Linked DNA regions of Homo sapiens: region 1 is linked to region 2. The links come from fine-mapping of genetic effects on gene expression. A gene starts in region 2. The other region holds a variant in brackets. All regions are shown on one strand. Distances are between the middles of the regions. Region 1 overlaps AGO3 (argonaute RISC catalytic component 3). Region 2 holds the start of ADPRS (ADP-ribosylserine hydrolase).

Region 1 (5,375 bases), 33 kb before region 2:
TATTTGTAGTAGAGAGGGGGTTTTGCCATGTTGGGCAGGCTGGTCTCGAACTCTTGTTCGATCCACCTACCTTGTCCTCCCAAAGTGCTGGGATTACAGGTGTGAGCCACCACACCCAGCCTATTTTTGTTTTATTATTTATTTGAGACAGGGTCTTGCTGTGTTGCCCAGGCTGGAGTGCAGTGGCACAATCACCACTCACTGCAGCCTTGACTTCCTGAGCTCAGCAATCTTCCTGCCTCAGCCTCCCACCTAGCTGGGACTACAGGTCCACACCACCACACCTGGCTAATTTTTTTTTTTTTTTTTTTTTTTTGAGACAGTCTCGCTCTGTCACCAGGCTGAAGTGCAGTGGTGCGATCTCGGCTCACTGCAACCTCCAACTCCCTGGTTCAAGCGATTCTCCTGCCTCAGCCTCCTGAGTAGCTGGGCTTACAGGCACGCATCACCACGCCTAGCTAATTTTTGTATTTTTAGTAGAGATGGGGTTTCACCATATTAGCCAGGATGGTCTTGATCTCCACCACATCTGGCCCACACCTGGCTAATTTTTTAAATCTTTTTGTAGAGATGAGGTCTTCCTATGTTGCCTAGGCTAGTCACAAACTCCTGGGCTTGAGCTGTCCTCCCACCTCAGCCTCCCCAAAGTGCTGAGACTATAAGCATGAGCCACCATGCCCAGCCTGAACAGATTTCCTTTAGGATATCAGTTTGAAACTTCTGCTGTAGTCAGCAAATAACCAATAATATTTCACAGAGACTAAAAACTGTTCTTTATACATCTTCCCAGCTTTACTTTTCTATTTTATTTTATTTCATTTCATTTATTTATTTATTGAGACAAAGTTTCACTATGTCACCCAGGCTGGAGTGCAATGATGGGATCATAGTTCACTGCAGCCTTGACCTCCTGGGCTCAAGTGATCTGCCTGCCTCAGCCTCCCAAGTAGCTGGGACTACAGGTGCATGCCACCACATCTGGCTAATTTTTTTTTTACCTTTTGTGGAGATGGAGCCTCACTGTGTTGTGCAGGCTGGTCTTGAACTCCTGGCCTCAAGCTACCCTCCCACTTTAACCTCCCAAAGTGCCAAACCTGTTTTTTATGTGACTTGGTATTAAATATTTATTAAAAAGTTCAAAATTGGGCTCAGCACAGTAGCTCACGCCTGTAATTCCAGCACTTTGGGAGGCTGAGGCAGGCAGATCGTTTAAGGTCAGGAGTTTGAGACCAGCCTGACCAACATGGCAAAACCCTGTCCCTACTAAAAATACAAAAAATTAGCTGGGCATGATCACACATGCCTGTAATCCCAGCTACTGGGGAGGCAGAGGCACTAGAATCTTTTGAGCCCCAGAGGTGGAGGTTGCAGTGATCTGAGATCACGCCATTGCACTTCAGCCTGGGTGACAGAGCAAGACTTTGTCTCAAAAAACAAAACAAAACAAAAAGAGTTCAAAATTCAACAGTGTATGTCATTGCCTTCTCTATAGGGTACCAGTCGTCCTTCACACTATCATGTTTTATGGGATGATAACTGCTTTACTGCAGATGAACTTCAGCTGCTAACTTACCAGCTCTGCCACACTTACGTACGCTGTACACGATCTGTTTCTATACCTGCACCAGCGTATTATGCTCACCTGGTAGCATTTAGAGCCAGATATCATCTTGTGGACAAAGAACATGACAGGTAATATAAAAGCATAACAGGTTCTCACCCAAATCCCAATATTGTCTGCATGGTAGGATTTTCAAGTTCCACAAGCTATTAGCGGAGTCAGTGATCCATGTGAAAAATGATGACAGAACTGACTGCCCAAGGTTTCCTATTGAAATATATTGTCTAGGCTCATTAGTAATAGAATCATGTAGTAACTTAGTTGTTTTACTACATTAATTCAAAGGAGAGATTATTGGTAATAAAGTGATACATTCAGACAGATAGACAAAATGATACGATATCTAGGTTTGCTTCTAATTAATTCTGGGGAGGTGAGAGAAGTAAAACAAAATTGGCCTTGAGTTAATAGTGATTGAAGCTGAGTGATGGACACATAGATTGTTACACCAGTCTCTTATTTGTTAATAATTTTGAAATTTTCTACAACAAATAGTATTTTTCGGAATTATTACATCAGAATAGAAAGTTTGTTTTTGTGTTCATTGCCACTTCTCTTACAGTGCTGAAGGAAGTCACGTTTCAGGACAAAGCAATGGGCGAGATCCACAAGCTCTTGCCAAGGCTGTACAGATTCACCAAGATACCTTACGCACAATGTACTTCGCTTAAATAGTCCAAGTATATTCTCTGAGAGGAAGTACTGAAAGATGAATTGACATACAACGTATGTTTCCAGTGAAGTCAATTGAGTAAGGACACCTCCAGCCATACAGAAACCAACACTGTGTGGGGGCCAAGGTCTGATCCTTATGTTAATACAAGGAAGATTGTTTACTTCATCAAGGAACACAGCATCATTATGCAATATGAAACCAGCCAACTGCTTTTTGTGCGGTCTCCTATAGGA[A/G]GTATCGCAATTGTTTTGTTTTCATTTCTTGTAGTCTAACCCTTTTAATGCCTTTACCTCAAGTTGCTTGGCAGCACAACTATCTTTGCAAAAAAAAGTAAAGAAAAAGTAAATGATGGTTTAAAAAATACACACCTTCATGAATAATCAAAGTGATTTTTCAGAATTATGTGTGCAAAAAATTAATGTGCATTCATATATTCTTGTAAAAGGTGTCTGTGTATTTTTAAAATATATACATCCATACTTCATATGCATATATATCTAGATCTGGATTGATAATAGATATATATGTGTCTGTTATATATTTTAGAGTTCATTCCATTGGGGAATTTTCTTTCCCTTTTATTCTACCCCCACTACCGCCTTTATTTCTCTATTTCCCTTGCCTTCATCACCTACATTTTTTTCCCAGTCCTACCAGTGACATTCAAATGTTGATGTATCTGGTTCGTTTGAATATAAAATATGGCAAACTAGAATTCTACTTTTATTTTGCATACCCTACTCCTGACTCCTATCTCATACACAATTCTGAGTTCTCAACTCTTGATATTGCTGTCTTAAGAAACAAAATTTTATATATATATGTATACATACATACACAGACACAGACACACACATATATATACATAAAATAACTTTCTGTGAGAGTGCGTCTCTCCCCTCCCACTCAGAACATACATTTACCATTTGCGCAATTTGTATATAAGCAGTAGCAACCTGAACTATTCTTTTTCTTTTTTCTTTTTCTTTTCTTTCTTTTTTTTTTTTAATGAGACAGAGCCTCGCTCTGTCACCAGGCTGGAGTGCAGTGGCGAGATCTCGGCTCACTGCAACTTCCGCCTCTCGGGTTCAAGCAATTCTCCTGCCTCAGCCTCCCGAGTAGCTGGGTTTACAGGCATGTGCCACCACACCCAGCTAATTTTTGTATTTTTAGTAGAGACGGGGTTTCACCGTGTTGGCCAGGATGGTCTCGATCTCTTGACCTTGTGATCCACCCGCCTCGACCTCCCAAAGTGCTGGGATTACAGGCATGAGCCACCGCACCCGGCCTACTATTCTTTTTCTTTAGTGAGTTTGTTAAAGCTGCTATAAATATAAAACCTGTCAGAAGTTGTAACTTTCTCTCTGGTAAGTGATGTGTATTCTGAAGCCTTCTGTTTCTATGGGTTATACATGGAAATTCTTTAAAGGTTTTATAAAGGGTAAATATTTTAAAAGATTAGAGCTCTGTAGGGTTGAGACCTCTGAAATTGAGTAGAGAGAAGAGTTTGTTGAGGGATTTTTTTGTTTTGTTTTTTGATAGTTTACTTGCTGCCTCTCATACCTTAATGTGATTTTCATATATTTTTTATATATATATATGTATGTGTGTGTATATAAACACATATGTATGTGTTTGGAAGTATAGCTTCCTTTTCTTTTATATTTATTAGAATAGTGCTTTAATAATTATAGAATTGTATTGGCAGCATCTTTTATAGAAATATAATCATGTTTATTTTAAGAACTGACAACTTGTTTTTGCTATCTTTTAGTGCAATAAGCAGTTTTAAAGGAAAGTTGTGTCTGCATCTTTACCATGGATAGTAGGAGGAACAGGCACCTCCATAGTTTAAAAGGGCAAAGAATACAGCCTTAATTTCAGAAGGAAAGTTTTGTAATTTTCAGTTTTAAAGCATATCTTTTAAAATTCATCATGATAAAAGGCTGGACGCGGTGGCTCATGCCTGTAATCCTAGCACTTTGGGAGGCTGAGACAGGTATATCACCGGAGCTCAGGAGTTTGAGACCAGCCTGGCCAACGTGGTGAAACCCCGTCTCTACTAAAAATACAAAAATTAGCTGGGCGTGGTAGTGGGCACCTCTAATCCCAGCTACTCGGGAGGCTGAGGCAGGATTGCTTGAACCTAGGAGGCGGAAGTTACAGTGAGCCAAGACTGCACCATTGCACTCCAGCCTGGGCAACAAAACCAAAACTCCGTCTCAAAAGAAAAAAAAATCATAATGAAAATGAAGTGAAATTGCCTAAATGAGTCCAACTTGAATATTAGAAATAAAGTTGAACTTTTATATAATTGTGAATAGCTTAACATATTTAAATTATTTGCAAATAGATTGTGTTTATTGAAGAATCATATTGGCTAGATGCCCATTTTCATTTACTAAAATGAATCAGGAAAATGCAAGATGATATTTTAAAACTTTTGCTAATGTATCACCAGTATAACTTTCCTTTTAAAATTAAGGTGATAGTAACAAAGGAAGTTAGGACTTTGATCATTTTAAATCAGTTAAATCACTGAAACGTGGGAAATTGTTTTACAAAACTTTTATTGATTACACTTTAAGGTATTAAAAAGTACTATAAAGCTATCAAAACTGAGTTTATCAGTAACATTGGATTCAGGGGAGCTTTGCACTTTGTAACTCATGAAAATTGCATTTTGATTTTTTTTTTTTTTGCACTGGTTCAGAGTATAGATACTACAGATTGTTTCCAGTGGGCATTGTTGTTAGCCTTTCAGAATTCCATCTGCACGTGAAACCTAATGGATTTAGATCTTTAGTTTCTCTCTTACCTGTAATCCACTATTATTGCCAATTCACTGTATTTTGAGCCTAAAATCTGAGCCCATGTCCTCTGACAGGCATGAAATCTTTTGTCCCTCTGCCAGAAAACTAAGAAAGTACTGTATTTTGTATGTTTATTATTTTGAAGTGTCTGAAATGCAATTTACAACACTGTTGCAAAGAACTTTACAAAAGGTAATATTTGTATCGTATATACATTTTTTCTCCCAGCCTTCTCCCATCTCCTCCAGAAAAATTTCCTATAAAG
Region 2 (5,353 bases):
GCCCTTGGGGGATGGTCCTGATGGAGTCTGCGCTTTCCCCAGCCTCTTGCAGGAAGTCCAACAGCAGCTCAACTCCGACCATCGGGGCAAAATGGAGACACTAGAGATCGACAGAGGCTGTCTCTCTCTCAACCTCAGATCCCCAAACATCTCGCTGAAGGTTGACCCCACACGTGTACCTGATGGGTAAGAAGAGTGTTTCAGCCAGTCTCTTCTCCTCCCCTCCCAGGCCACACCCTCATGACCCCCATTTTCCCTGCCACCTGCAGCTCCACCACACTCCAGCAGTGGGATGACTTCAGTCGGTTCAACAAGGACCGAGCGGAGGCTGAGATGAAGGCAGCCACAGAGCTGAGGGAGGCCACTGCTCTAACTATTGCTGAGGTGACAGGCCACCCACAGCTAATGGATGGTCCCAGTGTGCGCTCAGCCCTTATCTTCTGTTCCCTGCTGTGCATGTGGCCCCCTGCCCCTCGCTTGAGTAATATCCTCAGGCAGCCCTGAGTGTAGACCCTCCCCTTGCCCTGTGTTTTCTCCTTCAGACCAACAACGAGCTTGAAGCCCAGAGAGTTGCAACGGAATTTGCCTTCAGGAAGCGGCTGCGGGAGATGGAGAAAGTGTACAGTGAGCTCAAGTGGCAAGAGAAGAATGTGAGCATCTCCAGGGGCCTGGACTTCCTGCTGTGGGATGAGAAGCCGCATGCCCCCGCCAGGAGGCACTGGACCAGGCATGCACGTGAGTCCAGCAGGTGGAAACCAGTCACTCTGTCCCCTGCAGACCTTGGAGGAGATCGCTGAGCTGCAGGAGGACATCCGGCACCTGGAGGAGGATCTGCGCACAAAGCTCCTGAGCCTGAAGCTGTCCCATACCCGGCTAGAGGCCAGAACCTACCGGCCCAACGTGGAACTCTGCCGGGACCAGGTGAGAGGGTGTCCCAGTGGCGCACGGGCCCCCTAGCCAAGGTTTTCTCATATTCCTGATGGAGCAAGGGCACTGCTGTCAAGGGGCAGCACTCAGGTAAAGGACAGTGTGGCTGACTTGGAACTCCCAACCCCTCTGCCTCCAGGCACAGTACGGCCTCACCGACGAGGTTCACCAGCTAGAGGCAACCATCGCTGCCCTGAAGCAGAAGCTGGCGCAAGCACAGTAGGTCTCGGGAGTGGGCGGAAGGAGCAGTGAGACGCTGCCCACAAATGGGGCCTCTTGCTGGCTGCTGGCTCCCTGGGGCTGTCTTCCTGACTGAAGGCTATGCACGCAGCCCAGGCCTCCCAGCCTCATGGGGGCTGGGGGGTTGTCAATGTCCTTCCCTAGGGACGCACTGGACGCCCTGTGCAAGCACCTGGCCCGGCTGCAGGCTGACATTGCCTGCAAGGCCAACTCCATGCTGCTGGACACCAAGTGCATGGACACACGGCGCAAGCTGACCGTGCCTGCTGAGAGGTTCGTGCCTGAGGTGGACACCTTCACACGTACCACAAATAGCACCCTGAGTCCACTCAAAAGCTGCCAGCTGGAGCTGGCCTAGCCTTGGAGGACTGCAGGAGGAGGGCAGGGTTGGGTGGGCAATGGAAGGAGGGAGGAGAGAAATGAATGGAATAAATGCAGAGGATCTCAGGCCGGCTGTTCTCTGCCCCACTGTATGTAGCCAGCAGGGAGAGGGTTCTTGAACACCCTCCTGTCTATGGAGGAGCAAAGATGGGGAACACTATTCCTCCGAACTCCATGTACCAAATCCAGTTCTTTCCCTCCCCTCAGGGCACCCCTCTCTGGGCTGGGTCAGCACTCCTGGGCTGCAGCAGCGCGGCCTCTACCTGGCTGTGTCCCAGTTGGCCCCTGGTCCGCCCTCCTGATGCTTAAGGGAGGCCCACAGGGGGCAAGGGCCCGGTGGGAGGGCTTGGGGGTGGTCCCGGCCTCGGTGGGGAGGGCCGGCTGGGGGTGCGGAGTTAGGGTTGCTCGCCTGCGGAAGGCAGTGTGGGCTGCAGTGATCCAATGGTCTGGCTCAGTGCCCATCCCCCGGAGACCCCATAGTGGCCTTCCCACCCAGTTAGCCCAGTGGTGAGGAGCGGAAAACCGAGACTCAAAGCACAGGCTGGCGGGAAGTGCGCGGCGCCGCGACTCCGGGCCGCTGGGCGGCGCTGTGGGCCTGGCGGCGGAGTGGAAACTCTAGGCCCCAGGGAGCGCTGCGGACGGAAGTAGGGAAACTGTGAGGGCGGCACCGGAAGTGGCGAGCAGTCTGCGCGCGGATGGCCGCAGCGGCGATGGCGGCAGCGGCAGGTGGAGGGGCTGGCGCGGCCCGCTCCCTCTCGCGCTTCCGAGGCTGCCTGGCTGGCGCGCTGCTCGGGGACTGCGTGGGCTCCTTCTACGAGGCCCACGACACCGTCGACCTGACGTCAGTCCTGCGTCATGTCCAGAGTCTGGAGCCGGACCCCGGCACGCCCGGGAGTGAGCGGACAGGTGGGCGGGGCCGGGCGCAAGTCAGAGGCCGTGCGGGAGGGAGGCCGAAGGGGCGCGGAGCCTCCGGGGGCGACGGGTCGGGGGTGCGCGGGGATGAGGCTGCCGAGGGCACCGGGGCCAGAGCCGGATGACCCGCAGACAGCTTGAGCTCAGCGAGTGCCAGTGCGATCTCCGGCCTTATAGACGTCTCGCCCCGAACATCCCGTGCTCGGGGCGTGGCAGCACCGGGGCCTCAACCGTGCAGGGTGTGGATAAACCCATCGTAAGTTGAAAATACCTGAAGTGGAAAGTGCGCTTTCAGCTTAGACGACCGTTTTATCTGGACGCAGCCCCATCGGACGTCGAGGAGCCTATGAATGCGTATCAGCGTTATCAGAAAGCCGAAAAAAACTTAAGTTGAACCATCCTAAGTCGGGGACTGTCTGTCCACCCTTGCCGACTTGACCTCTTTTTCCCGGTTCTCTAGAGTCAGTATACCACCAGCCCGTTCTCCACCCCGCAAGGCGTGCTTTGGAAGCCTGACTCTAATCGCGTCCTCCCCTGCCTAAAACCCTGCTGTGATTTCCCATTACCCTTAGTACAGAGCCACATTCCTTAACGTGTCCGACGTGGTCCGGCCCTCCCACACGTCTGCAGTTTCGTTTTCCGCCAGCCTTGGCCTTGCTTTCTGCTCTTCGGTTCCTCACACCATGATTCCTCTAGGCCAGGCGTTTGCATGCGCTGTCTCGCCTGTAAAACTAACTTCCCTTCCCTTGTGGGCTCAGATCCCGGCTCAGGTAGCAGGTGTGAGGTCAAGCAGAGGAGGTGAATCTTCTTGGAGAGCAGGTAGCATAGTAAGAAGAAAGGGCCATGGTCAGAACCCTGGAGAACACCGGTAATTAAGAGGGAGGGAGGGAGGGAAGGGGATTAGGGAAGGAAACAGTTTGATAGGAGGAGAAGCAGGAGTGGCTATCAACGAAACCTAGGAAAAGAATTTCAAAATGAAGACACTGATCACTGGTGGTGTGCTCCAGAGAAGTGAAGTAGGAGGAGATCTGGATCCAGAAACTATCATTTTCAATCTGGGTATGGTGGCGCACACCTATAATCCCAGCTACTCCAGAGACTGAGGTGGAAGGATCATCGCTTAAGTCCAGGAGTTCGAGACTAGCCTGGGCAACATGGCAAGATCCTGTCTATAAAAAAGAAAAACAAAACAAAAACAAAAAGACTGGAGCTGCAAGGATGGCAGCCACAAGGGGATGGAAGTTTTCTTTCAGAAATCAGAAGATCAAACCATGATGTAGGCTCATAATAAATAAATACATAAAATAGAAAGCAGCAGGACTGACTTGGAATAAAGAATTGCTGAAAATCCCATTGCTGAGATCCTAAGGCTTCCCAGGCCCACGAAAGTGAATGGGAGTGAGAAACTGATTTGAGGTCATTTTAGATGTGGTAACTCTGAAACATGAGTAGAGGCTGGGTGCCGTAGCCACAACTGTAATCCCAGCGCTTTGGGAGAGTCCACTTGAGCCCAAGAGTTTGAGACCAGCCTGGCAACAGGATGAAACTCCATCTCTACAAAAAAAAAAAAAAAAAAAAAAAAAAGCCAGGCGCAGTGGTGTGCACCTGTAGTCCCAGCTACTCGGGAGGCTGGGGCAAGAGGCTCCTTGAGCCTGGGAGGTCGAGATGGAGTGAGCCATGGTCGTACCACTGCACTGCAGCTTAGGCAACAGAGTGAGACCCTGTACCAAAAAAATAATAATATAAACTAAAATAAAAGGTGAGCAGGGCCAGGCACAGTGGCTCAGGCCTATAATCCCAGCTCTTTGGGAGGCCAAGGCAGGAGGATTGCTTGAGCCCAGGAATTCAAGACCAGTCTGGACAACAGAGTGAGACCCTGTCTCTACAAAAAAATAAAAGTAGCTGGGTGTGATGATGCATGCCTATAGTCCCAGCTACTTGAGAGGCTGAGGCAGAAGGATAGCTTGAGCCCAGGAGTTCAAGACTGCAGTGAGCCATGATTGCACCAGTGCACTCCAGTCTGGGCAACAGAGCGAGACTCTGTCTCCAAAAAAAGCAAAAAACAACAACAAAAAAAACAAAGGTGAGCAGGAGGCTCTCATCCTCCCTCCTCTCCCCACAGAAGCCTTGTACTACACAGATGACACAGCCATGGCCAGGGCCCTGGTGCAGTCCCTGCTAGCCAAGGAGGCCTTTGACGAGGTGGACATGGCTCACAGGTGAGGGGGATGGTCCTGGGCTGAGGCAAACCAGGTGGGAAAGTTATTGCACCCCTTGACCAGAGGAATGACATTTGTGCATGTCCACGCCCCCAACCCTCCACAGAAGCCTGTGTCAGGCTGGCACAGCTTCCCAAGCTAAAACAGCAGCACTGCTGGTGCAGGCTCCTTAGGCCCCCGAGGCTTTCTCTTTTTCCAAACTAGCCTCGATTTCTTCTCTCCCAACCCTTAGAGGCATCTTGTAAATCTGAATTCTGTCTCCCCTTCTGTTCCCTAGATTTGCTCAGGAGTACAAGAAAGACCCTGACAGGGGCTATGGTGCTGGAGTAGTCACTGTCTTCAAGAAGCTCCTGAACCCCAAATGTCGCGATGTCTTTGAGCCTGCCCGGGCCCAGTTTAACGGGAAAGGCTCCTATGGCAATGGAGGTGCCATGCGGGTGGCTGGCATCTCCCTGGCCTATAGCAGTGTCCAGGATGTGCAGAAGGTATTCAGGGCGGGCTGGCTTCTGGGCTGTCCCCTTCCTCTTCTGCAGCAGGGCTTCTGTGACAGCAGGTCTCCTCCTCCCTAGTTTGCCCGGCTCTCGGCCCAGCTGACACACGCCTCCTCCCTGGGTTACAATGGCGCCATCCTGCAGGCCCTGGCTGTGCACCTGGCCTTGCAGGGCGAGTCTTCC

The links.
Region 1: its variant is fine-mapped to the expression of ADPRS in whole blood (TOPMed, PIP above 0.99).

Annotation. Positions count from the first base shown.
Region 1 is chr1:36,053,454-36,058,828 of GRCh38, forward strand. AGO3 (argonaute RISC catalytic component 3) reads left to right here. Exons shown (of 19, transcript NM_024852.4): 18 at 1,493-1,692; 19 at 2,184-5,375. The coding sequence ends at 2,292. Among named protein-coding and RNA genes, the nearest start is that of TEKT2, 28 kb to the right of the region's middle. The variant A/G (reference allele first, on the strand shown) is at 2,531.
Region 2 is chr1:36,086,662-36,092,014 of GRCh38, forward strand. ADPRS (ADP-ribosylserine hydrolase) reads left to right here and starts at 2,231. Exons shown (of 6, transcript NM_017825.3): 1 at 2,231-2,454; 2 at 4,583-4,679; 3 at 4,957-5,164; 4 at 5,249-5,353. The coding sequence starts at 2,244. TEKT2 (tektin 2) reads left to right here. Exons shown (of 10, transcript NM_014466.3): 5 at 43-186; 6 at 270-384; 7 at 543-650; 8 at 778-921; 9 at 1,067-1,146; 10 at 1,312-1,614. The coding sequence ends at 1,525. RefSeq lists enhancers at 1,734-2,319, 2,320-2,904 and silencers at 2,049-2,138, 2,249-2,678.